Linked DNA regions of Homo sapiens. The protein of the gene in region 1 interacts with the protein of each later gene in a pairwise test. Each region holds a gene or a part of one and is shown on either strand. Other genes may lie near its edges. The genes, in order: ALAS1, MTFR2, PPL and CDC73.

What was found.
Region 2: the proteins of ALAS1 (region 1) and MTFR2 interact in binary tests that used the Homo sapiens proteins (3 or more experiments, as listed by UniProt).
Region 3: the proteins of ALAS1 (region 1) and PPL interact in binary tests that used the Homo sapiens proteins (3 or more experiments, as listed by UniProt).
Region 4: the proteins of ALAS1 (region 1) and CDC73 interact in a two-hybrid assay, tested with the Homo sapiens proteins (3 studies listed by BioGRID and IntAct).

What each region holds. Positions count from the first base shown.
Region 1 is NC_000003.12:52,194,202-52,202,033, forward strand, and holds the start of ALAS1 (5-aminolevulinate synthase, non-specific, mitochondrial isoform 1 precursor), read left to right. Parts: upstream 1-3,958; 5' UTR 3,959-4,054; intron 4,055-4,470; 5' UTR 4,471-4,617; coding exon of another isoform or gene 4,618-4,647; intron 4,648-5,008; 5' UTR 5,009-5,019; coding exon of another isoform or gene 5,020-5,040; coding exon 5,041-5,239; intron 5,240-7,832.
Region 2 is NC_000006.12:136,239,996-136,247,869, reverse strand, and holds part of MTFR2 (mitochondrial fission regulator 2), read left to right. Parts: intron 1-309; exon of another isoform or gene 310-409; intron 410-3,000; coding exon 3,001-3,105; intron 3,106-4,896; coding exon 4,897-5,009; intron 5,010-6,193; coding exon 6,194-6,426; intron 6,427-7,874. UniProt on the Homo sapiens protein: May play a role in mitochondrial aerobic respiration essentially in the testis. Can also promote mitochondrial fission.
Region 3 is NC_000016.10:4,933,651-4,941,730, forward strand, and holds the start of PPL (periplakin), read right to left. Parts: upstream 3,499-8,080; 5' UTR 3,396-3,498; coding exon 3,334-3,395; exon of another isoform or gene 3,248-3,333; coding exon of another isoform or gene 3,147-3,247; intron 1-3,146. UniProt on the Homo sapiens protein: Component of the cornified envelope of keratinocytes. May link the cornified envelope to desmosomes and intermediate filaments. May act as a localization signal in PKB/AKT-mediated signaling.
Region 4 is NC_000001.11:193,145,731-193,153,604, forward strand, and holds part of CDC73 (parafibromin), read left to right. Parts: intron 1-2,136; coding exon 2,137-2,235; intron 2,236-4,573; coding exon 4,574-4,652; intron 4,653-6,649; coding exon 6,650-6,714; intron 6,715-7,874.

The DNA.
Region 1 (7,832 bases):
AGGTGTGGCTGCTCTACAAGGCTCTGAGTGACCATGACATCTACCTGGAAGGCACCTTGCTGAAGTCCAATATGGTCACCCCAGGCCATGCCTGCATCCAGAAGTTTTCTCATGAGGAGATTGCCATGGCAACTGTCACAAGCACTACACTCTGGGGAATAAGCGGCCTAGAAGGATCACAACTGGGCCAGAACAGGGCCCACCCAGACTCATCACTGAGGCAGGTGGGGTCATTCTCACTTCACAGACACAAAAACTAAGTGCTGCACTGCACAGTGTCCCCCACTGTCCCTGGGATCACCTTCCTGTCTGGAGGCCAGAGCAAGGAAGTGTCCATCAACCTCAATGCCATTAACAAGTGCCCCCTCCTGAAGCCCTGGGGCCTGACCTTCTCATATAGCTGAGCCCTGCAGGCCTCTGCCCTGAAGGCCTGGGGCAGGAAGAAGGAGAACCTGAAGGCTGTGCAGAAGGAGTATGTCAAGTGAGCCCTGGCAGATAGCCACGCCTGTCAAGGAAAGTATACTCCAAGCGGTCAGGCTGGGGCTGCTGCCAGTGAGTCCCTCTTCATCTTTAACCATGCCTAGTAAGCGGAGGTGTTCCCAGGCTGCCCCCCAACACCCCAGGCCCCATCCCCTCCCACGCTCTCTTGAAGAGGGGGACTCCTCTTCGGGGCTCCAGGCTGGCTTGCCCGCGCGCTTGCCTCCCTCGTGACAGCGGTGTGTGTTGTCTGTGAATGCTAACTCCATCACCCTTTCTAGCACATTGCTAATAAACAGCTATTTAAGGGAGAAAAAATAAAAATAAAAATAAAAATAGTTCCTGGGGCCCAGAATAAAAAGGGGGAATTCTAGGGGCTGGGGTTGACATTTTCCTTTTGCCTTGACCATTGGGTGGGTACTATGTGCAGCAGCCCCGGACGGTGATAGTGATGGTAATGATGACCATGATGCAGACTGGGTGGGAGGGAAAAAAGTCCCCAGCGTCATCCCTGGGATGGGGCCTGACCTTGCCTCAACTCCAGCTGCCCAGGGCCAGAGCGAGTGATAAGATGAGTTTATACTGTAGCTCTGAGAAGGAAGGGAGGGAGGGAGAAGGAGGGAAGGAGGGAAAAGGGAGGGAGGGGTAAGGGAGAGAGAAAAAGGGAGAGAAAGGGAAAAGAAGATGGGGAAGGAGGGAAGGACAAGGGAGGAGTGAGAGGCGAAGAAGGAGAAGGAAAAGAAGAAAAAGAAAGAAGAAGAGGAGGAGGGGGCGGAGGGGAGAAGAAGAGGCCCCGAAGGATCACAACTGGAGCAGAATAGTGCCCACCCAGACTCATCACTGAGGCAGATGGGGTCATTCTCATTTCACAGACACAAAAACTAAGATTTAAGGCATGAGGCAATTTGCTCAAGATCTCAGAGTTAGGACTAGAACTCATGGCTTATGCCTTGCTCTTCAAGGTCTCAAACCTTGAACCACTCAAGAAACATATTCCAAGATACCTCACCCTTACCTCATCAGAAAGGGGAGCTGGTTAAAATGCAGATTTCTGGGTCAAAATCAAAGGTGTGTGGCACAGGAATCTGCATTTTGACCGGTACCCTGGGGGTGGTTCTTTGGGCCCTGACACTGGGAAACCCCGTGGCTCATTTAGGGCCTTTCTGGTCTGACCTCTTGGCGTCAGGTCCTGACCATACTCCCGTTGCCCAGCTATTTGGGCTGACTCACGCTGACCCCCCAACCGCCACCCCCACAGGGCTGAGCCTTTTCCATCCAAGGCTTCACCCACAGTCTCCCAGTCGCATGTAGATCCACCCTTCCAACCAGCACCCGCTTCTCTTCTGGAAGCCTTCCTCGTGGTTGGGATCCTCCTCTTTCAGCGCCTGTTGGAGTAATAGCCTCCTCCTCTTCCTCCATCTGGAGTTGCTTACAACACTCTATTTCACTTTCCATGTGAGTCGGCCTTGTTTCCCAATCTTTCTCTATATTAAACAGGAAACTCCCAGAGGGCTAGGGACTGGCTGGTTTAAACAATAAGCCTCTGAAATACAGGACTTCACCTGACCCTCCTGCCAGCCACAAGTGGCAGGGCGGGAGAGCTTTACAAATCAGGAAACCAAGCCTTGAAGAGGTTGTGGCCTGCCCAAGTCTATGGCCAAGTAAGATTCAGAGCTGGGTTTGAAACCCATGCCCAACTCCACTATCCAGTTCTTTCTGCTTTGGCTTTGGCTCTGATCACCCCCAAAAAAACCCTATGAGGGCCAGGCGCAGTGGCTCAAGCCTATAATCCCAGAACTTTGGGAAGCTGAGGGTGATCACTTGAGGTCAGGAGTTCAAGACCAGCCTGGCCATCATGGTGAAACCCCATCTCTACTAAAAATACAAAAATTAGCTGGGCGTGGTGGTGTAATCCCAGCTGCTCAGGAGGCTGAGGCAGAAGAATCGCTTGAACCTGGGAGGCAGAGGTTGCAGTGAGCCGAGATTGTGCCACTGCACTCCGGCCTGGGCAACAGAGGGAGACTCTGTCTCAAACAAACAAACAAAATAACAACAACAACAAAAACAACCTGTGAGGCAGGCATTTCAGGGATTATGATCCTATTGCCCAGATAAGGAAAGCAAGGCCCAAAGATGAGCAAAGCACTCAATATCATCCTTATTCTGTTCCCACTTCCAGCTGCACTTGGGTCCAAGTCCAAGTGCTGACCTTTTCTCTCTCATCTTCTCTGGGTGATGGGCACTGCCCAGGATCTCTTGGCTGAATGGCACAGAACTGGGTCTCGAGCTCTCAGACCAAAGCCCTCATCCTGGACTGGTCCCACTGCCACTCTGAACCCAGGTGCCTCCTCTGAAGGTGGAGACTCACCTCACCTGCCTTGCAGCCAGCTGGGTGCTCAGAGACAGAAATGCAAAGTACCTGGACACACCCTGGTCACCATCATTCTGGACTTTGTCCCTCTTGTTAATGCTCAGCTGGGAAAGGAATACCCTCAAAGGCCCTTTCCTCAAGAATGGAGGAGAGTACCTCTGAGCCTGGCACAGGCCCAGCCCAACACAGCCCAAGCCAAGCTGGGAAGGGTGTGGGGCAAGGAAGCCAGACTGACATTCCTGAGACGGGTTTGCCAAGCCCTACACTTTATGTGTTGTACCCGGGAAACTCAATGGAGGTATGGCCCAACGCTGACCTTTGGCATGGAGGCCTAAGCCACCCTGCTGGTGCCCAGGGTGGCCAGCAAGGGGCTTCAGACAACCCTGGATGGAAAATAAAAATAGTGGCTAATATTTGTTACACGCTAACTATTGTCAGGCCCTGTGCCTTCCCCTCCTCCCCAAGTGCTCAGAGCTGTGGAGTGGATGGGTTCCACCCTAGCCCTGTTCCTCTGTCCCCTCTGGATCATCTTAGACCAGAAAGTGCCACAGCTGAGTGTCCCGCTTCTTCCGCATCCTGCCAGGACCACTCCATTTGTGGGCGATATAGCCAGCTCCACCTCCTCCGGGAAGCCCTTGTTCACAGTTTCCAAAGCAAGCCGCAGGCGGGATGGATCCTGCTTAACACCCCGGCCCAGAACCCCTTGGATCTCCTTCTTCCTCCATGTCCAAGACACCCAGCTTAACAACCCTGTAGCCCCCAACTTGGCCCTAGCGGCACCTCGCCTCGACCTTGCCATTTTATACTCAATTGGGGCGTAGGGTTCTGAAGCCCAGGGTAGTTGGTGGGGAGGCAGCACGAGGGTGCAGGATGAGGTCGGGAAAAGAGACCTCGTCCGCCCACCGCCTAGCGCTTCCTCCTCCCTGCAGGCGAGCCGGGGAATCCCCGGCAGCACCGATATCCGCAGAGCCCAAGAAGTGGGCCTCTCTGCCCCGCCCCCCCGGCTCGCCGAGGGCTACGCGGCGCGCCTGCGCAGAAGAAGGCAGCGCCCAAGGCGCATGCGCAGCGGTCACTCCCGCTGTATATTAAGGCGCCGGCGATCGCGGCCTGAGGCTGCTCCCGGACAAGGGCAACGAGCGTTTCGTTTGGACTTCTCGACTTGAGTGCCCGCCTCCTTCGCCGCCGCCTCTGCAGTCCTCAGCGCAGGTGAGGGCCCGCGCGGTAGGTGCGGCGCCGGCCGAGGAAGCCCCGGGGTGTCCTGCCAGCCGTGGCACCGCTGCCCCGGGTGCTGGGACCCCATCCCCCACTGTCCCAGTCACCCGCCGCCTTGAGGTCAGCGTTTATCCTCCAGATCTTTTGCCTAGACGGCCGCCTCAGTTTCCCCCTTTCGGCCCCTTCCGGCTATTCCCGGTTGAACCCGCCGCTTTAGAATTCCCTTCTCATACCCCTCCCGTCATTCTCGAGACCTCGACCGCGGGTCACCTCTGACCCCCACTGCCGGAGGACTGCCTTCTTTCTCCAGACTCAACTCCCTCGACTTTATAAGCCCCTGCGCGTCCCCAGTGAGGCCCAAGGCGCTGGCCCTCATACCCCTACCCTCATTTGTGCCCCTCCTTTCTCAGTTATGCCCAGTTCTTCCCGCTGTGGGGACACGACCACGGAGGAATCCTTGCTTCAGGGACTCGGGACCCTGCTGGACCCCTTCCTCGGGTTTAGGGGATGTGGGGACCAGGAGAAAGTCAGGATCCCTAAGAGTCTTCCCTGCCTGGATGGATGAGTGGCTTCTTCTCCACCTAGATGTAAGCCAAGATGTCTTATCTGCACTGTGCATCTCCCTAAGAAACCTCTGGCCTCCCAAACCTGTTCTTGACCTTTCCCTCATCCTTCCGCCCCCTTGATTATGTACTGTCAGTATTCATTTGGTGAAGTTGCTTTGCAGGTGCCTTTGTGTAGCGCTGGAGAATGAAGAAGTTGGTGACCCGGGTAAAGTGTGGTCACCATTCCTTAGCTCACATCAGTGCTGTCCTTAGGCATTTTTGAGGGAGAAGTGTTAGTATTCCAGGGTACCCTTTATATAAACTGCGGTTGACACCTGAATCCAGTGAGCTTGCAGTGATATTTGCCTGATTATTAACAACTGTTGATGTCACTCTTCATCAGTCTTTCCACAGGAGCCAGCATACTTCCTGAACATGGAGAGTGTTGTTCGCCGCTGCCCATTCTTATCCCGAGTCCCCCAGGCCTTTCTGCAGAAAGCAGGCAAATCTCTGTTGTTCTATGCCCAAAACTGCCCCAAGATGATGGAAGTTGGGGCCAAGCCAGCCCCTCGGGCATTGTCCACTGCAGCAGTACACTACCAACAGATCAAAGAAACCCCTCCGGCCAGTGAGAGTAAGTGTCATTGACAATGAAGGAGCAGGTATGGGTGTTTGTGCTCATTGGTAGACTAGAAGCAGTCCCCACAGTGGTGGTGAGGGTCACACTCACTCACAGAGGGCTGCTATGTGCAGGCTGGGCTCTGAGCACAGATTATCTCATATGATTGTCCCCCCAAGGGTAGGCACTTTTAGCTTTTCCATCTTTAAAGGTGAAACAGTGGCCAGTGTTGCACATTACAGGTTTTTGGATTGCACGTTAGTGTCTATAGGGGTTTTAGTGTTTCCTCAGTGCCTCGTTCACATAAATATTAAATTGGAATGTTCTAATTTCCCTCATTAAACATTTAGCCTTCTAATTTCCCTCATTAAACATTTGGCCTTCGGCTTTTTATTTATTTAATTTTTCTTTTTTGAGACTGAGTCTTGCTCTGTCGCCCAGGTTGGAGTGCAGTGATGCAGTCTCGGCTTACTGCAACCTCCACCTCCCAGGTTCAAGTGATTCTCCTGCCTCAGCCTTCCAAGTATCTGGAATTACAGGCATGCACCACCACGCCCAGATAATTTTTGTACTTTTAGTAGGGTTTCACCTTGTTGGTCCGGCTGGTCTCAAACTCCTGACCTCAAATGATCCACCTGCCTCAGCCTCCCAGAGTGCTGGGATTGCAGGCGTGAGCCACCGTGCCCGGCCCCTTTGGCTTTTTAAAGTAGTGATTTTTTTTTTCTTAAAAGTTTTTGTTCTGTTGTGGTAAAATGCCCAAGAAAAATTACCATTTTAAGCACTTAAAAATGTGCAGTTCAGTGGTACATTCATATTGTTGTGTCACCACCACCATCCATCTCCAGAACTTTTTTCATCTTCCCAAACTGAAATTCTATACCCATCAAACAGTAACTCTCCATTCCTCTCTCCCCAACCCCTGACAACCACCATTCTGCTTTCTGTCTCTATGAATTTGACTATTCTAGGTACCTCATATAAGTGAAATTGTACAGTATTTATTAGTGATTTTTAAAAACAAATTTATCTTGGCTGTGTGCAGTGGCTCACTCCTGTAATCCCAGCGCTTTGGGAGGCCGAGGTGGTTTGATCACCTGAGGCCAGGAGTTCGAGACCAGCCTGGCCACATGGTGAAACCCCACTGTTACAAAAAATACAAAATTAGCTGGATGTGGTGGTGTACGCCTGTAATCCCAGCTATTTGGGAGGCTGAGGCATGAGAATTGCTTGAACCCGGGAGGTAGAGGTTGCAGTGAGCTGAGATCATGCCATGTATCTTTATTTGTATATACATTTGTTGTTGTTGTTTTTAACAAAGAGACTAGAGTTGAATTTAGTTTGCTCTGCTTCTGATAGGAGAGAACAAAGCTTTTCAGGTTCCACTTAATCCCAGAGAATATTTTACAGGTTTTTCTTAGGCGTGTTCTCTGGGTGTGGGCTTGTAAGAAAATAAGTTTTTTTTTTCTTTAAGCAGAAAGGATTTAATCCTTTGTAGGGTTTATTTTCAAGAGTTAGTTACGTCTTTTTTACCAAAATGCTTGCAATGGCTATGTTTTAAATGATAGGATTTTTTTCTTTTTCTAGACTTTAATGAATATGTATTACTTTTATAATAAATGAAATTAACTTCAAAATAATTTTTTTGGCCTTCCGTTATAGAAGATTTTAATGAAAACTGTATTGAGACACTTTACCCAAGTTATAGGAAAGGCTAGCCAGTGACTCACAGGAGTGTTCCAGAATGATGAAGAAAGACTTTTCTAGAAAGAAGGTGAATGAATTTGCTCAAGGGGAGAGGGAAGTCACTGTAGCTAGAAGGATAATTACCAGCCAACGGTGTTTAGTCAGCAGACTTTGATGAATTTAGATGAGAAAGTAGATGAGGTATGTGAATGTGATATACCCCTATTTTTTCTTACTTTATTAGCAATCTAAAGACCTAAGTCTTAGTCTAATTTCTGTTGTTTAGATGAAAACCAATAGCTTTTATGTTAAGCAACAGCAAGCCTCTTTGTCAAGAATCTGTTTAGAAAATGTCAGCAGAGACAGGATGTGGTGGCTCATGCCTGTAATTCCAGCACTTTGGGAGGCTGAGGCGGGAGGACTGCTTGAGCCTAGGAGTTTGATAGAAGCTAGGGCCACATAACAAGACTCCGTCTCTACAAAAAATAAAAAATAAAAAGAATTAGCTGGGCGCAGTAGAACACCTGCAGTCCAAGCTACTTGGAGAGCTAAGGTGAGAGGATCACTTGAGCCTGGAGGTCAAAGCTGCAGTTAGCTATGATTGCACCATGCACTCTAGCCTGGTTGACAGAGTGAGATCCTGTTTCAAAAAAAAAGGAAAGGAAAATGTTAGCAGAGAAAAAAATGTGTGTGAATATTTCCCGTTACCTTACAGAGTGTGTCCTCTCATAAAATAAGCTGAGTGTAGTTGGGGTAGAAATTACTGGAAATGATCCAACTCAAGGATTCCGGGTTGTCTAAAACTAGAAAATGGTACTTTTTTTGGATTTATGACGAGAAATACTGTGGGTTTAAGAGGCAACTGGAATGTGCCAGTTAACTCTTCATAGACGCATTGTTTCCTGTGAAGCAGATGAAAAACTAG
Region 2 (7,874 bases), on another chromosome or scaffold:
GTTTTGATATTTAAAGCCATGGACTTCGATAATGGCAAATGTCATTAGATGTGATTGAAACATTCTAAATATCAGTAATCGAGAGACTGAAGATAACAGCTGAACATTTGTTTATCACTATTAGGTTATTGGTGACCTTAAGAATTTCTGTAAGTGGAGAATGGGACTGTGTTGGAGTAGTTTGAAGAATATCAGGAAGGGAGGTGGGATCAGCAACCTTCTTTTGAAAAGTTTGCTTGTGAAAAGAAATTGAGAGAGGCCATCAGCCTGAAGGGGCCGCAGGATGGAATTTTTCTTTTTCTTTTAAAGTTAGAAGTAACTTCAGCATATTTGTCATCACTCTGGAAGAAACAGACAGGAAGAAATTTAAGATCCACATGAGAGAGGATTGAGCACCGCCTTTGAGAAGGTAGTTGGGCAAGGGATCTAATTAAATAAGTCTTGGAAAGGAGAGAGACTGTCCTGCCTTAAAGAACAGAATGAAAGTGAGAGAGAGTGAAAAGAGATTTTTTTTTTTTTTAAGATGGAGTCTTGCTCTGTTGCCCAGGCTGGAGTGCAGTGGTGCAATCTTGGCTCACTGCAACCTCTGCTCCGAGGTTCAAGTGATTCTCCTGCCCCAGCCTCCCGCGTAGCTGGGATTACAGGAGCCTGCCACCAATGCCCAACTGATTTTTATATTTTTAGTAGAGATGGGGTTTTACCACGTTGGCCAGGCTGGTCTTGAATTCCTAACCTCAAGTGATCCACCTGCCTTGGCCTTCCGAAGTGCTGGGATTACAGGCGTGAGCCCCTGCGCCTGGCCTGAAAAGAGATTTTGAATGGAGCTAAGTAAGAGAAGTGAAGTTGAGGTATGTCAAGTTGAAGTTCTCGGTTTTCTCAGTAAGAGCAGAGACAAGGTCACTTGCAGGTAATGAAGTGGTGGGATTTGAGAAGGGATTTCAGAGATTGGAGACTGCTCTGGGCAATGTGGTATAGAATGTAACATGTTATGAAGGGATTTCAGAATACCTGTGAGAACCCAGCTGAAGTCATCATGGAATTGTAGTTTTTCTAAATATTGTCGTTTTGTGATTTTTTTTTCCTAGCTAAGAGTAATTACAGTAGTGTATTCATTAGCAGTGTGGGAGCACATAATATCAAAAGAATGAACCATTTTTGAGTGGCATTGAACATATTACTGAAATAATTAACCAGAAAATCCATGCTTGGTAGGAAAATTAGTAAAGTCAAAATGTGGGTACTAGACCAGGAATAGAGGGAAGATGAAATAATAAGAATGGTGAAGATGGCCAGATGTGGTGGGTCGCCCCTGTAATCCCAACACTGTGGGAGGCTGAGGCAGGCATATCACTTGAGCTCAGGTTTTCAAGACCAGCTTGGGCAACATGATGAAACCTCGTCTCTATAAAAAATATAAAAATTAACCAGGCATGGTTGTGTGCACCTGTGGTCCCAGCTACTCCAGAGGCTGAGGTAGGAGGATTGCTTGAGCCTGGGAGGTGGAGGTTGCAGTGAACCCTGATCATGCCCTGCACTCCAGCCTGGGTGACAGAGTGAGACCCCATCTCAAAAAAAAAACCTCAAAAAGCAAACAACAACAACAACGAAAATGGTGAAGATGGCCAGGGGCAATGAAGGAATGAGAGGAAGGACAAGAGTTTATTAGGATGGAAACTGCCGAGCAAGATAGGAAGGTATCATTTAAATTAACTAAGAACTAACCCAACTCTTGGGTGACTGTATATGTCATAGGTAGCCGTCATGGTAGCAAAGCCTCTATGCCTGTTGTTCTTAGCAGGGGTACGCAGATGAATGGTCTGTAGAACACTTTAAATATAAATGCTCAATCCTCCAAATATTCTACTAGTAATAGGTCTGGGATCTATATCCTCTAGGCTGTGCAATCCAGTATGATAGCCACTGGCCACATGTCACTTTTAAGTACTCAAAATATCTGAATTGAGATCTTCTATAGGTGTAACCTATATAAGGGATTTTGAAGACTGAGTGTGAAAAAAATGTAAAATAATCTTAGCAATTTAAAAATATTATCGGTTGAGCATCACTCAAAACCTGAAATCTGAAATGCTCCAAAATCCCAAATGTCTTGAGTGCCAGCATGACACCACAATGGGAAAATTTTACACCTGACCTCACATGATGGGTCACAATCAAAACGCAGGTGCACAACCCACAGTTTATTTAGCCTGCTGTTGTTAGTTGTTGCTGTTGTTTAACAGCTGAGACCGGCGGTTTATTGGTTGTTTTAATGAGGATGCTAATAGGTGGCTACCTATATCAGTTGGGATCTTAGGAAAAATGTCCAATTTATTATATCACATCTTTTGGCTGGTGGGGGAGAGTGGTTCCTGTGGCAATGGTTTACACTAATTTGGGAAGCCCACACTAAAGGATGAAGTATTATTTGAGCTATAGTAGCACATTATTACTTCTAATGCCTTTTCAAGAGCTGACTGCCAGCAGATATATTTCACTTTATGTAAATAACTCTGAATTGTCTAGGACCTGATTTATTTATTCCCTTTTTTATTTCTCCTTTAAAGGAAATTACATAAGTATACTCCATATTACGTCGTTGCTTGATAATTTGAAATTGTCTATTTTTGGTTGGGCCAAAAAGATGGGATTTGTAGCTGGGGGAGGGGATGCAATTTTTTTGAACAAAGTTTCTCCCAAGGTATTGGACATTATCAGAAATAGAACAAAATGAATTGTGCTTTTTAAAAGATCTTCCTGGAATGTATATATGTTTACTACCATCTCTTTTTAAGACAAATACTCACAAAGTTCTATTCTTTGAAGAAAGGCTCTGCCATTCTATATTTCTTTTTAAAAATAAATGTTATTTTACAGGACTCCCTGTATTAAAAAAAAAATGCCACTGCGTCTTTTTTGTCTTTTTTACATCTCCTTTTTTCATACTTATATAAATATGCTTAATCAGAGTGCATTTTAATTCATACTTTATGTTTAAAATAGGTTTTGCTGATTTGGGAAAATAAAGACTATGGATCAACTAGGAGTATTGTTCGTATTATTGGGAAAATGCTTCCACTGGAACCTTGTCGAAGACCTAATTTTGAGGTAAGTCAGTCAACATAAATTGTTTAAGTACCAAGTACAAAATAATCCTAGGTACTCTTACAGGTATGGGGTAGAACAACAAAGGAAGAAACATTTCCTGCAAGCCAAAAACCTGTAGTTTACCCTTGGGAACAAGCCATTTCATATATGTTTTTGTGTTTTTGTTTATTTAAATACAATCATGCATCGTTTAATGATGGGGGGATACATTTTGAGAAAAGCGTTGTTTGGTGATTTTGTCATTGTGCAAACATCACAGAGTGTACTGGCACAAACCTAGATGGTATATGGCCTATTATGCACCCAGGCTATATGGTATGACCTGTTGCTTCTAGTCTGCAAACCTTTTCAGCATGTTACTTTACCGAATACTGTAGGCAGTTGTTACACAATGGTAAGTGTTTGTGTGTCTAAACATAGAAAAAGTATGGTAACAATGCAGTAAAAATTAGATAAAAAATGTTACGTCCGTATAGGGCACCTACCATGAATGGAAGATGGGAAGTTGCTCTGGGTGAGTCAGTGAGTGGTGAGTGAATTTGAAGGCCTAGGACATTACTGTACACTACTGTAGACTTTATAAACACTGTACACTTAGGCTACACTAAATTTATACAAAAACCCTTTCTTCAATAATACATTAACCTTAGCTTACTGTAACTTTTTTTATAAATGTTTTTATTTTGTAAAAATTTTTGACTCTTTTGTAATAATACTTATCTTAAAACACACATTGTACTGCTATACAAAATATTTTTATATCCTTATTCTATAAGCTTTTTATGATTTAAAAATTTTTAAATTTTTTATACTTTTAAAATTTTTTTGTTAAAACTAAGACACAAGCACACACGTTAGCCTAGGCCTACCCAGGGCAGAATCATCAATATCACTGCCTTCTACCTCCACATCTTGTCCTACTGGAAGGCCTTCAGTGGCAATAACATGCATGGAGCTCTCATCTCCTATAATAACAATACCTTCTCCTGGAATACCTCCTGAAGGACCTTCCTGAGGCTGTGGTATAGTTAACTTTTTTTTTTTTTTTTTAAGATAAGGTCTTGCTGTCGCCCAGGCTGAACGAAGTGGAGTCGCGTGATAACGGCTCACTGCAGCCTCAACCTCCTGGGCTCAAGTGATCCTCCCACCTCAGCCTCCTGAGTAGCTGGGACTACTTGGGAGGTGTGCACCACCACACCTGGCTGACTTTTTTTTGGTCTGGTAGAGACGGGATCTTGCTATGTTGCCCTGGCTGATCTTGAACTCCTGGCCTTAATTGATCCTCCTGCCTTGGCCTCCCAAAGTGCTGGGATTACAGGAATGCACCACCATGCCCAGCCAACTTTTCTTTTTAAGTAGAAGGAATACACTCTAAAATAATAATAAAAAGTATAATATAGTAAATACTAGGTGATAGGAATATTTCAGTTTCATCATAATCTTATGTGACCCCATGTATATGCAGTCCATGATCGACCTAAATGTTACGTGGTACATGTCTGTAATGACATTCACAGATGGGCAAGTGTGAACAATAACTGAAGAGCTTAATTTTATTTTGCATTTTGTGATAGATGAAATTAACCAGGGGAGAGAATATTGCTTAGTGCTTAGACTTCAGCATAACATTTTCCCCAGTGTTCTTTCGTGCTAACAGGTACATGTTTTTCTATTGAATATTCTTTTTATTTTTCTTTCTTTTGGATTGTTAACTAATTTAATACCATGGGGCATGTGTCTTCTCCTGACTCCCTGCAGAGCTCTGACTATTTTTTTCTTTTTTTACTTTAGTTGATCCCGCTCTTGAACTCTGTAGACTCTGATAATTGTGGATCTATGGTTCCATCTTTTGCTGATATTTTGTATGTGGCAAATGATGAAGAAGCCAGTTATCTCAGATTTCGGTAATTTTATATGCTTATCTTGGGAAGTGGGCTATAAACTGAATTCTTGCATGTGTCGAAGCTTGTTAAGATTGATTGAGCTTTTTTGTTTTGTTTATCTTCAAACTGTGCTGTGCCCTACTGTATCTTCTTAATAAAGAAGACTGGCTGCTTTTCATTTTTTTAGCCAGTTGTTTTTTTTTTAGTGCACATTTAAACCTAACACCAGGCCTAGGAGGGAGTGGTTATTAAAGGGATATTAGAATCATGTTTTTAGCCAAAACTTATATACTGTTTACTGTGCACCAGGCAATGATGTTAAATGTATTTCAAAATTTGGATGTGTTACTCCTAGGGAGTATTACTTTATATGTTAGTATATTCAGATACAGGCTCTAAGCACATTAAGTGTCAATTATTTAAGTATTCCGGCTGATTTTATTATGTATCAAACTGGCACCAATTTTCAAATAGTTAAAATAACATACATTTCACCCTAACATAATCCTGAATGTAAGGCTCTTTATTAACTTATATAGAACTTCTAAATAAATTAACTTACCTGCGTTTAAAGTTAATAAGTAGAACAATTGCAGGTAATTATTTTGGTTTTATAATCTAAAAGCAAAGTTTGTTTTGTTCATTCCCTGGTCACTGACTGGTCCTCCATTGGAGGCTATGTTCTGTTTATATTGGGAATACAAAGCTAAATAAGATATTTTCCTTGTCCTCAGTGGTGACTCTAGAAACAATCATGGGGGATAGAGAGTAGGTTTTTTTTTTTTTTTTTTTTTTTTTTTTTGAGACAGAGTCTTACTCTGTCGACCAGGCTGGAGTGCAATGGCACGATCTTGGCTCACCACAACCTCTGCCTCCCAGGCTCAAGTGATTCTCCTGCCTCAGCCTCCTGAGTAGCTGGGACTACAGGGGCACGTCATCACACCGGCGAATTTTTAAAAATATTTTTAGTAGAGACAGGGTTTCGCCATTTTGACCAGGCTGGTCTCGAACTCCTGGCCTCAGGTGATTCACTGCCTCAGCCCCCAAAGTGTTGGGATTACAGGTGTGAGCCACTGTGCCCGGCCTGAGAGTAGCTTTTATTTTGTTTTATTGTCTTTTGATTTTCACGTAGGAGTGTAAGAGTTTATACCTCTTTTGATTGGAAATATATCTTCCCTCCATTTCCTATTTTTTTTCACCCACAGAAATAGTATATGGAAAAATGAAGAAGAGAAAGTGGAAATTTTTCATCCTTTGCGACTAGTTCGGGATCCACTGTCACCTGCTGTAAGACAGAAAGAAACTGTGAAAAATGACCTGCCTGTAAATGAAGCTGCAATTAGAAAAATAGCTGCCCTTGAAAATGAGCTGACTTTTCTTCGCTCTCAGATTGCAGCAATTGTGGAAATGCAGGAACTGAAAAATAGTACAAATTCTAGTAAGTAACAGTAGGATTTTTGTTTCAGTTAGATGATACTCATGGTATAGCCTATACCAACCTGTACAGCATGATACTGTACTGAATATAGTACGTATAGTAGCATACAGGAACATCTAGTATTTAAGTGAGTACAATTCTGAATAAGTACCATGAAAACATTAAATGTACATAAAAGGATGTTGAATATACAAAATTATTATATCTGATGTTTATTCAGGATAAATTAAGACACATTTGTAGTGAGGGGATGGCTTTGATTTAAAGAAGAACTAGCTTTACTATACTAGAAGATTGTATTTTTGTATTAAAAAGTCTGTTGTCTTCTAAGTAAGCTTTTTTTTTTTTTTTTTGAGACGCAGTCTTGCTCTGTCGCCCAGGCTGGAGTGCAGTGGCACGATCTTGGCTCACTGCAAGCTCCACCTCCCGGGTTCACGCCATTCTCCTGCCTCAGCCTCTCGAGTAGCTGGGACTACAGGCGCCCGCCACCACGCTCGGCTAATTTTTTGTATTTTTAGTAGAGACGGGGTTTCACCGTGTTAGCCAGGATGGTCTCGATCTCCTGACCTCGTGATCTGCCCGCCTTGGCCTCCCAAAGTGCTGGGATTACAGGCGTGAGCCACCGCGCCCGGCCCTCAGTAAGCTTTTCTAACTCTTCATGAAAGCATTGGATATTAAAGAGGAAGAATGCATTGGTTTGAAAGAGGATATAGGTTTGAGGCATCATATGTTTATAGTTTTTAGTTATTGCTGCTACACTTCCACCAAGTTGAGGTGAGTCATGTTTTCCAGATGATTGTTTTATAAATTTATAGAGATACAACTTGCTTTAAACTTATGCACACACATACACACAACATGTATGTATGCGTGTATAAAATGTAAAGCAATCTAGGTACTGAATGCTTTTCACAACAGATTTGGCTGTAAAGGGCTGTGTGTAAATATAATTGCTAAAAATTTTTTAATACATATGTATATATACAAATGCATAAATACACATATAATTTAAGATATTTATACAGTGTATATTTATAACATTTACATATAAACACATTATATAATATACAATAACTTATATTTATACATAATAAATAAAATGATATATAACTATACACAGTTTTCTTAAGCAATCGTGTTTACCCACAGTCCTTTATGAGCAAATCTTAAAGTGGAAAAGTTAAATACTCAGTACCCATCTTAAGCTTTGCTTAGAAAATAATATGCTTATTTCTCCAATGTCATTATACAGTGAATACATCAATTTGTGTTTCTAACTACAAGTTGTTGATTTCTGTTTTAGCTTTTTTAAAATAGAGGATGAAGTTCAGAGTGTATGTGAATTACTGAAAAAACTCTTTTTTTTGTTTGTTTAAGATGCATTCTCCTCCCCGCTCTGCTCTTGGACCTACACTGAAAATTCCTAACTGGATTAAAAATGAATTCAC
Region 3 (8,080 bases), on another chromosome or scaffold:
GCTCCTGCCTGGCCCCATCAGTCCGACGCTCATGTAACCATACATGTACTGAAGCTTAACTCCATCTTATCTCTGTGATGTGACTGCCAGCGACTCAAGTGCAGGGAGGTTGTCCACGTCTCCTCCACGACCACGTGCTAAAACCCAGCAACAGTGCCTATGGAATTGTGCAGTGCACAGCCTGTCCACCATGATATCAAGTTTAACCCTGGGTACACCACAGCTAGCTTGCCCGCATTTGCTTAATAACTGTAATCGTCACAGATGCTATTACCTGCGGCCGCTTATCATTCACAACCTTTCCCCTGCATTATTTCATTTAATCCTGAGCCAACATCGCCAGGCAGGCACCGTGCTTATTCCCATCCCACAGGTGAGAAAACAGGCTCAGAGAAGCCAAGCAGCTCCTCTGAGGTCGCACAGCCAGGAGGGTGGCAGCGGGTCTCCTCCAGGGCCTCTCTACTAGGCTGGAGGCTGTCCTCGGTCACCTGCACCATCTGGCCTGACTCTGTCATTAGCTCAGGTGTGAACATCAACTCCCACACCTGTCATTAGGAACCCGGGCAACGGGAGCAACGGGGTTCACACCCTGTCCCGGCCCTCCCCAGCTTCAGCTGCTAAAAGGCAGACAAACTGGAAGGGGTGGCTTTCTCGGTGGGGTGTTCCGTTCACTAATCCACACTTTGTAGTCCAAAGGCCTGACTACCTTGGGTATGAAAGTCACCACTTGGGGCTCCTGGGTCCCCTGGGCTCGGAAAGGGCTGCTACCCTCATCCGGGCACCTCCTGTGTGCTACAGCACTGCTCCTCCCAGCAGCCCTATGCATGAGACACTCAGTATTACCACCCGTGCTGTGCAGAAAGGGAAAACAAGGCTTCGAGAGGCTCCAGGGTGGAGATGCCAGGATCAACAGTGAGGCATTCTGCTCTCAGTGCTGGAGCTCCTACTGCCCCCCATGCTGAATCTCACCAGCAATTTTGTCCTCCCCCAGACAATGGAGCGGGCCCCTGGAAAACTCAGAGTGAAGGAATAACTTGGGGATCCACTCCCTGTGACCAGCGACCACAGCCTAGAGCCGCAAGTCTGTCCCCTCCACCCCCCCACCAAGACACTTGCTATGGGGCTGGCTGGGCATCAGGCAATGTTCAAGAGATGCGTTTGAGAGGATGGGGTACAGGGCTACCCCCACCCCACAATCCAGTCTGCGAACTAGTCCCCACTAAGGGGAGGGGGCAGAGGGATGCACTGGGCTTGGAGACCACCCGGGGAGGCATCTGACATCTGCTCAGGGCTGTGGCTGTGCTCATTCTGTGCTGGGGTGGCAAGGCTCAAAGGAATGGTCTTGCACCCCAGGCTGGGGAGAGAATCAGGAGGGCTTCCTGGAGAAAGAGACGTCTAAATGGAGATCTGGGACCAATGGCTATCAGCCTAGGACAGACCGTGGCTGCCTTGGGCCAGATATACAGAGAGTGGCAGGACCCCAAATCTTTGCCACCCCAGACCCTCCCAGTCCCTGCAGCTATAAAGGATGGGATGCCTTTCATCCTCATGCTTCTGGGAAAGCCCGCACCCCTCCCAGCTTGTCTGGGTTCATTAGAACCTTTTGTTAGGTCCAAGCTGGGGCCTTCAGGATGGAGAGCTGCACGAAGGAGGGAGGCTGGGAGGAGGCAGAGGGCGGGGCGAGGCCTGGCCCCACCACTGGTATGTGGGTGTCTGCATGTGTGAAGGACTGGATGGGTCTAGTCTCTGGGGTGGAGAGGACAGAACGGTTCTCCACGGCTGGCACGGAGCATCCAATTGTGCAATGCCCCAGGGAACAGTGCAGGGACTGGACGGGCCTCTGGTTGGGTCTGAGTGCCAGCTGGACGCAGCCATGGAGGAGGGGTGTGCAGGCCCTGCCCAGTCTCTGGGGTTGTGAAAGATAGGGGAGGGGTGGGGAAATCTCTAAAGGCGGGTAATGCCTCTGAGCTTGAAAGAGCCCAAACGGAGATACGGGTGGGTGGGATCACAGGGCAGGGGGGTTTCTGAAAGGGCTGGAAGGCCCCGGAATGGAGTGTCGCACTCCAGCGTGCTAGGGCCCCGCCGCCTGCACCTGTCCGACTGGTCGGCCTAGGCCGGACTGCAGGGGTTGAGTGGGAGCCCTGGGCCCAGAGGCCTCTCCTTGCCTAGGGAAGAAGTGAGGAGCTGCTTGAGGGCACAGTGGGGGCTCCCAGTGAGAGCAGCTTGGGGGCAGAACTCCCAGACAGGAGAGCCATGTAATGTGCGGGCCCCTCACCTGCCTGAAGCCTCTTGTCCGAGAAGCTGGCAAAATGGTCCTTGCTAGCCCAGAGCCCCCACTCTATTTTCCGAAGTGGGGATATAAGGCAGGGGCTGGATTCCCACCCCCTCCGTCAATCTCAGCATCTCCACCAGGCTCCCCTAAACCGGTTATTAAGTGAACACATTAGGCTTATCAAAAGGGACGTGGGCTGCTTCTCCCTGCAAACACATCAAGACATGCCATTCCCCTCCCAGGCCGCCCTGGGAACCCGCGGCTCAGAGACGCCGCCAGTTTCGGGGCTGGGGTGGGGGCAGGGAGCCACACCCCTGCGAAACCGAGCTTCGAAGAGGAGGCCCCGAAGCCGCCCAACCTCCGCTCAGAACCCAGAGGGTGGGGAGGTAAGGGGGTGCCTCCCCCTGTGCCCCTCGACCCGACCCCACACCCCCCAGGGCCTCCGGGCGCGGCTCTGGCGCGCAGGGTGGCAGGTGCCGGGAAGTGCAGCGGCGGGTGGCCCGCCCCCTCCGGACACCCATCCCTCGCCTCCCCGACGCCAGGAACACTTGCGCGGTCTCAGAGGCGCTGGAGAGCGCCCCCCGACGCCAGCTCAGTTTCCCTGCCTCAGGGCGCCCCCTGGACGGAGCTTCCTGGGTCGCCCGCAGCGACCCCGCCTTGAGTGCCCGGTCCTCCAAAAACTCCGCCCCCTCATCCAGGTGACTATTCCCGGTCCTGTGCGACCCTCTGCGCAAGAGCGACCCTGGGACACGGGGGTGCCCTGTACCCCCAGCTCAGCTGCCCGTGCCCTAGGCCCTCAAGGCAATGCTCCCTGGGCTCCCGGAGTCCCCTGTGTTATGCTCCCCCTCGGGGACCCCAGCCAGTCCCTTCCCACCTGGCGGCGCTTCCCAGCTTCAGGGTGGCCTCGGTCCCGCGTTCCCGAGAGTCCCGCACTCCGGGTTCAGTTCCCGGTTCCTGGACCCCCGTACCCCCCATTCCTACACTGCCCGGGAGGTCTTCCAGGTCCTGTGCGCCCACAGGGGCAAGAGCGTCCCGGAGCGGAGCTGTGGGCGCCTCCTCACCTCCGGGTCTGCACAGTGGGGCTGTATTTGCCTTTGTTTCTCTTCCTGAAGAGCGAGTTCATGGTGGCGCTCGGGGTGCGGGCGGCGGCGGCTGGCGGGCCGGGCGCGCACCGAGGGGCGGGCGGGAGCGCAGGTGAGCGAGCGGCGGCGCGGGGAGCCCGGACTGCGGCGCGGCAGTGGCTCCGGGTCCCTACTCGCTGGGGGCGGGGCGCCCGCCGGCCACTGGCTCTGCGGGCCGCTCCCCGAGAAGGTGGTGCTTACCTTCCCGAGGAGGGGCCACCGCGCGGGCGGGGCTTGGACGCGGGGGTGGGGACACTGGGTCTTGGCCGGACGCCGCCCACCCCCAGCCGGGGGACTCCGGAGGCCGGGCAGGCACTGGGGCGCAAAGGCCGCCGGGGCGAGCGCTCGCAGCCCCACCCTCCTCGGGCCCGGCGCGCCTCTGGCCGAGGCCTTCACCTGGTTCTGCGCTACCGCGGAACTCGGCGCTCCTGGTGCTTTGGCGGACACCCAGCTGGGCCCCGCAAGACAGGTGCGGCAGAGACCCGCACGGATTCATGTGCCCTAGTAGCTAGCGAATTGCACTCAGATGGTGGCAATTGAGGGAAGGGGGCTGAACTGCCGAGGGCGCCGGCCTGAGTTCAAGCCCTGCCACCCCCAGGTTGGCTGACACTCCTGGGCAAGGTGTTTTACTGCTCCCAGCCACAGTTTACTTCTTTGTCAAACGGTGATAACCACCACCCCATCCGAAAGGCCTGTGGGGATGTCCCTGCAGGTAATGCACGCAAAGCGCTGAGCGCAGTGCCCTGGCCTGAATCTGCTCTCCGCTTGCCATCTCGGGTGGACAAAAACTCCTTTGAAACTTCAATAACTCCAGGCCCTGGCACTAGAAGAGCGCTTCATAGCTGGTCATAAAAGCTGCTCGATTGCGGCTCAGAACAACGACGTTGCACAATTCTGCCAGCATGTCCTGGCCCAGACTGTGTGCCAGTGGAGGAGGCTGCCCTTAGACAGAAACCTAATCTGACCTGAAGCCCGGATGGCACACACCACCACACCTGGCTAATTTTTAAAAATTTTTGTAGAGGCAGAGTTTCACCATGTTGCCCAGGCTGGTCTTGAACTCCTGTGCTCAAGTGATCTGCCGGCCTACAGCCTCCCAAAGTGCTGGGATTACAGATATTAGCCACCGTGCCCAGCCAACCTTATTCTTAATGGGGCTTCTATGGGTGGGCTTAACCCATTTATGCCTGAGGTTGCAATTTTTTGAATTGATAAATCATACCTTGGCAGTGACCTTGAGCAGTAGGAGATAACTCCCACAGGCGTCACGTTCCAATAATGGACCACTAGGCGTAAATAGAGGTGTGATTCCTCCTAAAGTTGTGCCTGCCTGCCTGCCTTCCTTCTTTCCTTCCTCTCTCTTTCCTTTCTTGCTTTCTTGCTTTCTTTCTTCTTTCTTCTTTGAGACTCAGTTGCCCAGGCTGGAGTGCATTGGCACAATCATAGCTCACTGCAGCCTTGACTTTTGGGGCTCAAGCAATCCTCCCACCTCAGCTTCCCGAGTAGCTGGATCCACAGGTGTCCACCACCACGCCTGGCTAATTTTTAAAACCTTTATATTTATATATGTTTTTTGTAGAGATGGGGTCTCGCTGTGTTGCCCAAGCTGGTCTTGAATTCCTGGGCTCAAGCAGTCCTCCCACCTTGGCCTCCCAAAGTGCTGGGATTTCAGGTGTGAGCCACTGCACCCAGCCCTAAAGTTGCTTTCAAAATGTGTGTGTCCAAATGTGCATTTTTCTGGGGGAGGATGTATTGCTCAGTGGAGTCATTTACTCATTCAACACATGTTTCCCATCACTCTCACAGCCTCAGTGTGCCTGGCTCTGCTTGTTGTACACGGATGAGAAAAGGGAAAAGAACAACACAAAAGGGGCTTTCTCTTTGGGAGCTTTCAGGTCCCGGGGCAGGGGACACATATTAAAAATGTTAACTTGGATGGGCGCGGTGGCTCACTCCTGTAATCCCAGTACTTTGAGAGGTCGAGGCAGGGGGATCACCTGAGGTCAGGAGTTCAAGACCAGCCTGACCAACATGGTGAAACCCCGTCTCTCCTAAAAATAAAAAATTAGCTGGGCGTGGTGGCGCCTGCCTGTAGTCCCAGCTACTTGGGAAGCTGAGGCAGGAGAATCTCTTGAAACTGGGAAGGGGAGGTTGCAGTGAGCTCATATCACGCCACTGCACTCCAGCCTGGGAGGTCACAGTGAGCTGAGATCGTGCCACTGCACTCCAGCCTGGGCGACAGAGTGAGACTTCGTCAAAAAACAAAAACAAAAACAAAAACACGTTAACTTTTCTTTTTCTTTCTTTTTTTTTGGAGATAGGGTCTTGCTGTGTTGCTCCGGCTGGAGTGCAGTGGCGTGATCATGGCTCACTGCAGCCTTCCTTGACCTCCCAGACGGAAGCCGTTGTCTCTTCTCAGCCTCCCTCTCAAGTAGCTGGGACCACAGGTGTGCACCACCATGCCTGGCTAATTTTTTTTAAATTAATTAATTATTATTTTTTTTTTGACAGTCTGGCTCTTGTCGCCCAGGCTGGAGTGCAATGACACACTCTCGGCTCACTGCAACCTCTGCCTCCTGGATTCAAGCAACTCTCCTGCTGCCACCACGCCCTGCTAATTTTTGTATTTTTAGTAGAGACAGAGTTTTGCCATGTTGGCCAAGCTGGTCTTGAACTCCTGACCTTGTGATCTGCCTGCCTCAGCCTCCCAAAGTGCTGGGATTACAGCTGTGAGCCACTGTGCCTGGCCTTTTTAAATTTTTTTAATTAATTAATTAATTATTTAATTTTTTTTGAGACAGAGTCTTGCTCTGTCGCCCAGGATGGAGTGCAGTGGCATGATCTCGGCTCACTGCAAGCTCCGCTTCCTGGGTTCATGCCATTATCCTGCCTCAGCCTCCCAAGTAGCTGGGACTACAGGCGCCCGCCACAACGCCTGGCTAATTTTTTGTATTTTTTAGGAGAGACGGGGTTTCACCATGTTAGCCAGGATGGTCTTGATCTCCTGAACTTGTGATCCACCCACCTCGGCCTCCCAAAGTGCTAGGATTACAGGCGTGAGCCACCACGCCCGGCCTTTAATTTATTTTTTTTAGAAGGAGTCTCACTCTACCACCGGGCTGGAGTGCAGTGGTGCAATCTCGGCTCACTGCAACCTCCGACTCCCTGGTTCAAGGGATTCTCCTGCCTCAGCCTCCCGAGTAGCTGAGATCACAGGCACGTGCCACCATGGCCAACTAAATTTTGTATTTTTAGTAGAGACGGCTCAAACTCTTGACCTCAGATGACCTGCCTGCCTTGGTCTCCCAAAGTTCTGGGATTACAGGTGTGAGTCACTGCACCCGGCCGCCTGGCTAATTTTTAAAATTCTTTGTAGAGATGGGCTCTTACTATGTTGCCCAGGGTGGTCTTGAACTCCTACAGGCTCAAGCAATCCACCTGCGTCAGCCTCCCAAAGTGCTGGGATTGCAGGCGTCAGTCCCTGCGCCGGCCAAATTGTGAACTCCTTGAAGGGGTCTGGGGACATATGGGGGAGAAAGACCCTGGGAGAGGCGGTGGTTCTAACATTGTTGCACCTTAGAATCTCTACAGGAGTTTGTAAAAGGCATATTCTGGGGCCCTGGGACCCTTGACATCCTGATTGGGGGGGTCTGAAGAGGGAGGGGCCTAAGAATCTGAAATCTGGACAAGCTTCCCTGGGTGGTCTGAGGCCTCAGTGTGTGCAGCCTCCCAGCTGCTCAGGCAGACAGCCCTGAACAGACCTCCCCAGCAAACCCAGTCCTTCCCCAACTCGGCTCTGCCTGGCTCAGTTTCGGGTGCCGCCCCCAGGTGGGCATTTCTCATTGGCAGGTAAGGGCATGACAATGCCCTCCCTCGTCCAAAAGTGACTTCCTTGCCTAGATCTCAGGGCCCCGAAGGGATGCTTCCTCCAGCCAGCTGATATTGGGAGCAGGTGTTAGAGAGGAGCTGGGGTTTCAGAACACAGGTGTGCGGGGAGTCACCTTGCACCCGCAGAAGCCTGAACTCAACATGGAGCTGGCTCAGCACACAGACCCCTTCCCCATACCCCAAGAGGGGTTCCCAGGGAACTTGTGCGTCCTTGCTGTCGCCCCCTGGTCTGCCTATGCCTGGACACCCTCTCCTTTCTCGTTCCCCATACCTTTCCCCACAGGTGGGCTCTTACTCCGGGCTCAGCATGCCTTGAGGATGGTCACTGCAGCAGTGTTGCTGACCTTGTACTAAGTGTGCATCCTGGGATGCTTTTGGCAACACAGTTGCTAATGGAGAAGCTCTGTAAAGAAACTGCTGCCTATTTGGAGGGGGATGGTCCGGTAACCAGGGCTGCCTACACCAGGAAGACCCTGCAGCTGGAAAAGGGGCAGATGTGGAGACCATATGTAGACTAACATGGAGTGGAGTGCCAGATGCAAAGTGCAAAAGAAAGAGGGAAAGACAGAGTGTGTGGTGTGTAACATGCTTGTCTATGCACAAAAAACTTCTGGAAGGATACATGAGAAACCGTTGCTGAATCTCCCCAAAAAGGACAAGAAAGAAGTTTGAATTTCTTTTCTTTTTGAGATGGAGTTTCACTCTCGTTGCTCAGGCTGGAGTGCAGTGGCGCGATCTTGGCTCACTGCAACCTTCGCCTCCCAGCCATTCTCCTACCTCAGCCCCCCAAGTAGCTGGG
Region 4 (7,874 bases), on another chromosome or scaffold:
CTCCAGAGAATTATAGGAACTAGTTAGCACTGCAACTGGTATAGTGATAATAGTTATGTTTCAAGCAGCCTCTCATTTTATATACATATTTATTTGTATAGTATTTATTTAACATCTACAAACTAGGCAAGTGCTAAACACTGACCAGAGGTGCATTGGTCCTAGCTCTCACAGAAGTTATACTCTTCAGCAGAAGTCAATATTAAATAAGCGGTAATTATTACGTACATTATAGGGCAGACACCCAGCAAGGGCAGTTAACTTAGTTGAGAGTAAAGAGGAGTGATACCTAAAGAACAAAAACTAGTGAGGGAGGTGAGAGGGGTAAGGTGGGAAGAGTGGTCCCAGCCAAGGAAACAGAATGCCTTGTTTAAAGAAGAGAAATTATGTTGTATTTGAGGTTCATGAGGGCAGCGACCATGTCTTTTTTGATCATCATTGTACCCAAGTGCCAAGCAAGGTGTTTGGCTTAGAGTAGATTCTTACTACATATTCCTTCAAATGTTAAGTGATTGATAGGCAGCATAAGAAGAGCCCCAAAGGAACTGTCAGACATTAGGGGTAAAACCAAGAGAGAGTAGCATCTCAGAGGCCAAGTATCTTTGTCTGTTTTGTGCTGCTGTGGATATCACAGACTGGGTAATTTATGAAGACAAGAAATTTATTTCTCATATTTCTGTAGGCTGGGAAATCCAAGAGCATAGCAGTGGCATCTGGTGAGGGTCATTTCATGGCAGAAGGCAGAAGCAAGCAAGCAAGCAAGCAAGCAAGCAAGCAAGCAAGCAAGCAAATGAGACACAGAGAGAAATGGGGCCAAACTTACTCTTTCGGGAATCCGAGCCCACTTTTGCAATAACAACATTAATCCATTCGTAAGGGTGGAGCCCTATGACCTACCTAATCACCTCCTAAAGGCTCCACCTCCTAATACTATTAGAATGGAATAAAATTTCAACATGGGTTTTAGAGGAGACATTCAATCCATAGCATGAAGGAAGAATATTTCATGAAGGAAAGAGTCGTCAGATTAGTTAGCTGTGTTGACTTTTGATCAGCATGTAATTGCATTGTGAGTTGAAGAGCATTTGTACTTGTACTTTCCAACTTACACATCTTTGAAAAGTGTACATTGACTTCTGATAGTATCTCAAAACTCATATGTAGCAATCTGAAATTAGCACTGGAGTTTAACAGGAGGATGTAGTAGTTGATTATTTTTTTTTCTGAACTAGAAGCCTCTTTTGACAAATGTATTTATATTTTATTTAGATTTTTTTTTTTAGACGGATTCTTGCTCTGTCTCCCAGGGTGGAGTGCAGTGGCGCTATCACGGCTCACTGCAAGCTCCACCTGCTGGATTCACGCCATTCTCCTGCCTCAGCCTCCCAAGTAGCTGACACTATAGGTGTCCACCACCACGCCCAGCTAATTTTTTGTAGTTTTGGTAGAGACGGGATTTCACCGTATTAGCCAGAATGGCCTCAATCTCCTGACCTCATGATCCACCTGCCTCTGCCTCCCAAAGTGCTGGGATTACAGTCACGAGCCACCGTGCCCGGCCTTATTTAGATTTTAACTTGCTTTCTGGTTATATATTTGAACAGATGCAGAATATGAATACATTTGTAGCAGTTTTTTTTTTCTTTTTTTTTTTTGAGATGGAGTCTCGTTCTATTGCCCAGGCTGGAGTGCAGTGGCATGATCTTGGCTCACTGCAAACTCCGCCTCCCGTGTTCACACCATATTCCTGCCTCAGCCTCCCGAGTAGCTGGGACTACAGGCACCTGCCACCACGCCCAGCCAATTTTTTGTATTTTTAGTAGAGACGGGGTTTCACCTGTGTTAGCCAGGGTGGTCTCCATCTCCTGACCTCGTGATCTGCCTGCCTTGGCCTCCCGAATGTAGCAGTTTAAGTAAAATGAAAATGATGAAATGAATACCATGGGATTTACAATAATCAGTCTCTGGATCAATATCTTAGTAGTGGTTGGTTTTTACATATGTGTATAATAATGATACCTTATGACATATGTAGTAGGGAAGAATCGATAGTAAGATAACTTAGTCTTAAATTATCAACTAAATTTACTATTGTATATTTAAAGTGGGCTTAATTAAAATCCATTTATATTTTAGAATTTTTCCAAGAACATTTTTGCAATTCTTCAATCTGTAAAAGCCAGAGAAGAAGGGCGTGCACCTGAACAGCGACCTGCCCCAAATGCAGCACCTGTGGTAAGAATGCTTTACTGCTTTACAGTAGATTTAATGAAGTTGCCACTTATATTGCAGTGTAGTAACGTTGAAGACATCTTCACATTTTAAAATCAGTGGATTCTAAACCTTTTGCTCCTTTAGCATATCTGAAAGATGTGAAAGCCCTCCCCAACATTAAAAGTTACTTACTTCAGCAGTAATTCTTAACTGGAGCAGTAATTCTTAATATACCTGGGTCAGAGTCTGAAAAAGGTTAATTAGGGAAAGCCCTCTATTTATTTTAGGTAAACTGTGGCTGGCCTACTCATTGTTGCTTGGGACAATTGCTAACCATTGTTAATAACATAAATCCCTGTTAACTCCCAGTTTGGGGTTCTTTTTGGCATTGTATCTATTACATCTTGGTGAATGTATTTCTCTTGATCACCAGCCATGCTGTCCTTTAATTGTACCTCCATTTCAGCTGCTCTGAGAGTTGACTGCCTTCTCTTTGAAGTGCCACTTAAGACCCTCCCAAAGTAAATTTCACGTATGACATATAGCCTATATTTAAATTCAAACATCCTCTAATTTTGTTGAAAATCCTTCCAGCTATTTTCATATGATTCAACAAAGGAATAAAACATACAAATGAAATTGTTTCTATTTTCTGCAATAGAAAATAGAAGATTCTATAAATAGAAAATTTATAATTTTTTTTTTTTTTTTTTTTTTTTTTGAGACAGTCTCACTCTGTTGCCCAGGCTGGAGTCAGTGGCACGATCTTGGCTCACTGCAACCTCCGCCTCCTGGGTTCAAGCGATTCTTCTGCCTCAGCCTCCCAAGTAGCCAGGATTACAGGCGCATGCCACCCCACCCAGCTAATTTTTGTATTTTTAGTAGAGATGGGGTTTCGTCCTGTTCAAGACCAGGCCGGTCTTGAACTTCTGACCTCAGGTGATCTGCCCACCTCGGCCTTCCAGAAAACCTTCTATATTTTTAAAACTCTGTTTCAAGTTTTAAAAGGCACATTGAAATGTATTAGAGTACTAATACAGCCTTTGCAACTACTTTGTAGTAGTTTTATTTGCTCATGAAATTGTTGGAATTTAACTTTTAAAGATGGTAGGCTTTTGTTGATAATTAGATAAATACTTTTAGTTGACTCTCCATCAAGTACTTAAGTGCCTTCTATTAGGAAGTCTGCTAATGATCTTGAGATACAATAGTGAGAAAGATTATAGTCCCTACTTTCTTTGAGCTTATAGTCTAATACAGCAGTCCCCAACCTTTTTGGCACCAGGGACCAGTTTCGTAGAAGACAGTTTTTTCATGGACCAGGGGGAGGTTTTTGGAATGAAACTGTTCCACCTCAGATCCTCAGGGTTTAGTTAGATTCTCAAACGACCATGTAACCTAGATCTCTCAGCAGTTCCCTACTTATTAGATGTTTTTTTTTTTTTAAAGTAGTGGAGTAAGAGCTATGATGGCAAAGCACAAGGTACTTAGAATTATGAATTTGTTGACATTTTGAATAGCTGTTGATAGGAAACATGTCAAACCTTAAAACAGTTTTACCATTTGTGACTGATTATTCTTTCTGTATATTTATATAATCGTTAGAATACTTGAAGGTTTTAATGTTTGGCATTTGACTATAGAAGTATATGCCTAGTGTGAAGTAAGCATATACTTATCATTCTTGATAGGTATTGATAAGTATATTTTATTTGGCATAATATTTGATATAGAATCCTATCATAATAAAATGAAAAGTATTTCAGTCTTCATGAATTTTCCAAGTAGCTTTGGGAATATTCCTAAATATGTGTTTTTAGTTTGTTAAACATTGTGAGTTTTGATAAAGTATTTGTGATTAAATAATGCATCATTAGACTGACAGCCTTTTCTAATTATTTAAAAAAAATACGTCTTCAGTCTTACTCTGTTTATAATGGATTAATCATCATGGCTTTCATGTTTATTTAAGGATTAATAATTTGGGTTTTTTTGTTTTGTTAAAACAATCATAATTGCAGGGAAGAGTATTATGTCGTAAAGGTACTTTAGCCAGGTATGGTGGCTCATGCCTGTAATCTTAGCACTTTGCGAGACTGAGGTCGATCACCTGAGGCTGGGATTCAAAACCAGCTTGAGCAGCATGGTGAAACTTTGTCTTTATAAAAAAAAAAAAATTAGCTGAGTGTGGTGGTGCATGCCTGTGGTCCCAGCTACTTGGAAGGCTGAGGTGGGAGGATCACTTGGGCCCAGGAGGTCTTGGCTGCAGTGAGCCATGGTCATGCTACTGCACTCCAGCACATTAAATAAGTGACATTTAAAAATATTAACAAGTAACTCATAATTAATTTTTTTACAGGATCCCACTTTGCGCACCAAACAGCCTATCCCAGCTGCCTATAACAGATACGATCAGGAAAGATTCAAAGGAAAAGAAGGCAAGTTGCTTAATTCTTATCTTCCCCTTAGTGTGGTTGTGTTGAACTTGAGAGGCAGTGTGGCCTGATGTTTAAGGGTAAGGGTTGGCAAAGTAATGTCTACAGACCAGATCTTACCCACTGCAATTTTTCTTAAATAACATTTTGTTGGGACACAACCACACTCATTCATTTATGTATTTTATATATGGCTGCTTTGGCTTTGTGACATCAGTATTGAATTGTTTCAGTAGAGACTGTGTAGCCTACAAAGCCTAAAAATATTATCTGGCCCTTTACAGAAAAAAAGTTGGCCAACCCCTGGTTAATAGCATGGATTCTGGATCCAGATAGCTTATGTCGTAGTAACTTTTTGTGTGAATTTTAATGTTACTTTAACTGCATTCTGCCTTAGTTTTCTCCTGTGTATAATTAAAATGTTATTATAGTGCCTGTCTCTTACCATTATTGTGAGTATTGGACTGGTTAATAAATATTGAATTCCCAGAATAGTATCTGATATGTAAGTAAATTATCTATAAATGTTTGCTGTTATTCATACTGCTTTTGTTTTTATATAATTTAAAGTAGAGATTCTATATGTTAAGTCATTTTTCCCAAGTTATAAATGTGTATGTACATTGAGAACTTGGAAACAAATTTTGAGCAATGATGGGAGGACTTACTTTGTGATAGTCTACGTGGTATTCTGGCTAATGCAATAACACCATTTCTGCAGTTGTGAGGTGAGACTAATGTCAGTGTAACTTCCTCTTGGGATCTTCATTCATCATGACTTGATTCATGAAAATATTAGGTAGAAGCAACTGGAAGTTAATGATATTTTTAAGCATAATCTGAAATCTTCATTTAAGTTTTTTTTAAATGATATGTTGCCTTGATGCAATGAATTTTGTGTGCTGACTTCATTCAGTTGTTAAAGGCATGCACTGGATATGTGCCATAGAAAGACTACGTCCATTCTTTCATTATAATATTCAATGTTTTTCTTGAGGAATGAATTATATAAAGCAGAGGTTGATAAATTACAGCCCCCAAACTAAATATCACCCTCCATGGGCCAAATTGGGTTGCCCCCAATTGATCACATATATTGTTTATTCTGCTTTTGCACTAAAATACAGAATTGGGCAGTTGTGACAGATTTTAAGGCTTGCAATGTGTTAAAATATTTGCCTTTACAGAAAGGCATATTGGGATTCTGTCCTGGCACTCCAATCATTATTTACAACATTGCTTTCTATAAAATATGTAATATGGTTGATTGCTGTAGCTCACACCTGTAATCCCAGCACTTTTGGAGGTGGAGGCAGGAGGATTGCTTGAGTTCAGTACTTTGTGACCAGCCTGAGCAACATGGCAAAACCGCATCTCTACTAAAAATACAAAAAAATACCTGGGTGTGGTGGTGCATGCCAGTGGTCCTAGCTACTCGGGAGGCTGAGGTGGGAGGATTGCTTGAACCTGTGGAGGGGGGATGGGAGAAGAGGTTGCAGTGAACTGCAGTGCCACTGTACTCCAGCCTAGGTGACAGAGTGAGACCCTGTCTCAAAAGAAAAAATATATATGTATGTATGTATATAAAAATAAGTATATGCCTTATGACTGAAACTTTGGAACACTACTTTTTATAACTTTGGGTCTTTTCATGGTATTAGATGCTTTTAGTGGTACTATCATTGAGTATTAGTAGTAAGTAATTTGGGGTTATAAAGTATTCAATCTTAATTTTTGAACATAATTGCAGAGATAGTCTTAACCAGCTTCTATACAATAGGCTTGCTGGTCTGTATTTAATATATTAATATTTTTTAACCTAGAGTCCTTTTTAAAGTTTTTATCTTCACAAGTACGTAATTTAATTTTACATAGTAGATTCAAGGCTTTGTATATTATTGAACCATCACATTCAATGTAGATTATTACTTTAGATTTGTTATAGGTCATAAGATACATGATCTATAAAATCTTAACAATAAGCCTCTTTTTTTTCGTAGAAACGGAAGGCTTCAAAATTGACACTATGGGAACCTACCATGGTATGACACTGAAATCTGTAACGGTAAGTTAATTTGGCTGTAGATGTTCTTTTGTTCCAGGGATTTTATGTGAGTAGCACATGTTGAAGTAAATCTTTAGTCTCTCATATTTTTTATTTCAAACATTTTTCTTTATTGATCACTTGTGCTGATTGATCTGTGTGGTGTATTATTTGATTCATGGGTATCCTGTTTCATTTTTCTTTTCCTTCAAATTAAGTTGAATATATGTAAATAAAAGCTGATTTGATTAACTTGCAAGTAGGGCAATGCCACCTGGTCAGTATTTAAAGCCTTTAAGTTATGAGGTCAGTTTGGGAGAGCTTTTTCGCATAATATCTTTTGTTTTTATTTTTATTTATTTATTTATTTTTTTGAGACAGAGTCTCGCTCTGTCGCCCAGGCTGGAGTGCAGTGGTGCGATCTCGGCTCACTGCAACCTCCGCCTCCCGGGTTCACGCCATTCTCCTGCCTCAGCCTCTGCGAGTAGCTGGGACTACAGGTGCCCACCACCATGCCCAGCTAATTTTCTTGTATTTTTAGTAGAGACGGGGTTTCGCTGTGGTCTGGATCTCCTGACCTCGTGATCGCCCGCCTCAGCCTCCTGAAGTGCTGGGATTACAAGTGTGAGCCACCGTGCCCAGCCTTGTTTTTAACAATGTAATGTCTTTCGCTCTTTAAAGAGATGGATTATAGTGATTATAATGCTTACAAAGTATGTAATTAACAGAACTAAATACTTGGGTATCTGTGAATATAAGCCTTTGGTTCATGTTTAGCAAACTTTCTTTTTTTAACCTAAAAATGGTTATTTCTATATATTCTGACCAAGCCATATTTAACATTTTAAATTTTTATTTAATGATCGGACTTGGTGATGTAGAACAGGAATTCTGTTAACCTCATTTTGCATATTTATATTCTAGACCATTCTACCTTTTATACTTTTATTTATATTCTAGATTATTATACTTTTAAAATACTATGCATGTGTATTAAATAGAGTATACTTAAGACACTAATACCAAACTTTTGTCTTTGCTTGTGAATCATCAGATCTTTACGGACTCTATATAACATGGAATCATTATATATGTGCTGTGGTTTCTCAGAATTAACATATAACTTTATATCTACGTGGGCTTTTACGTGTTTTACTCACTCATTTCCAAAAGCAAATAGC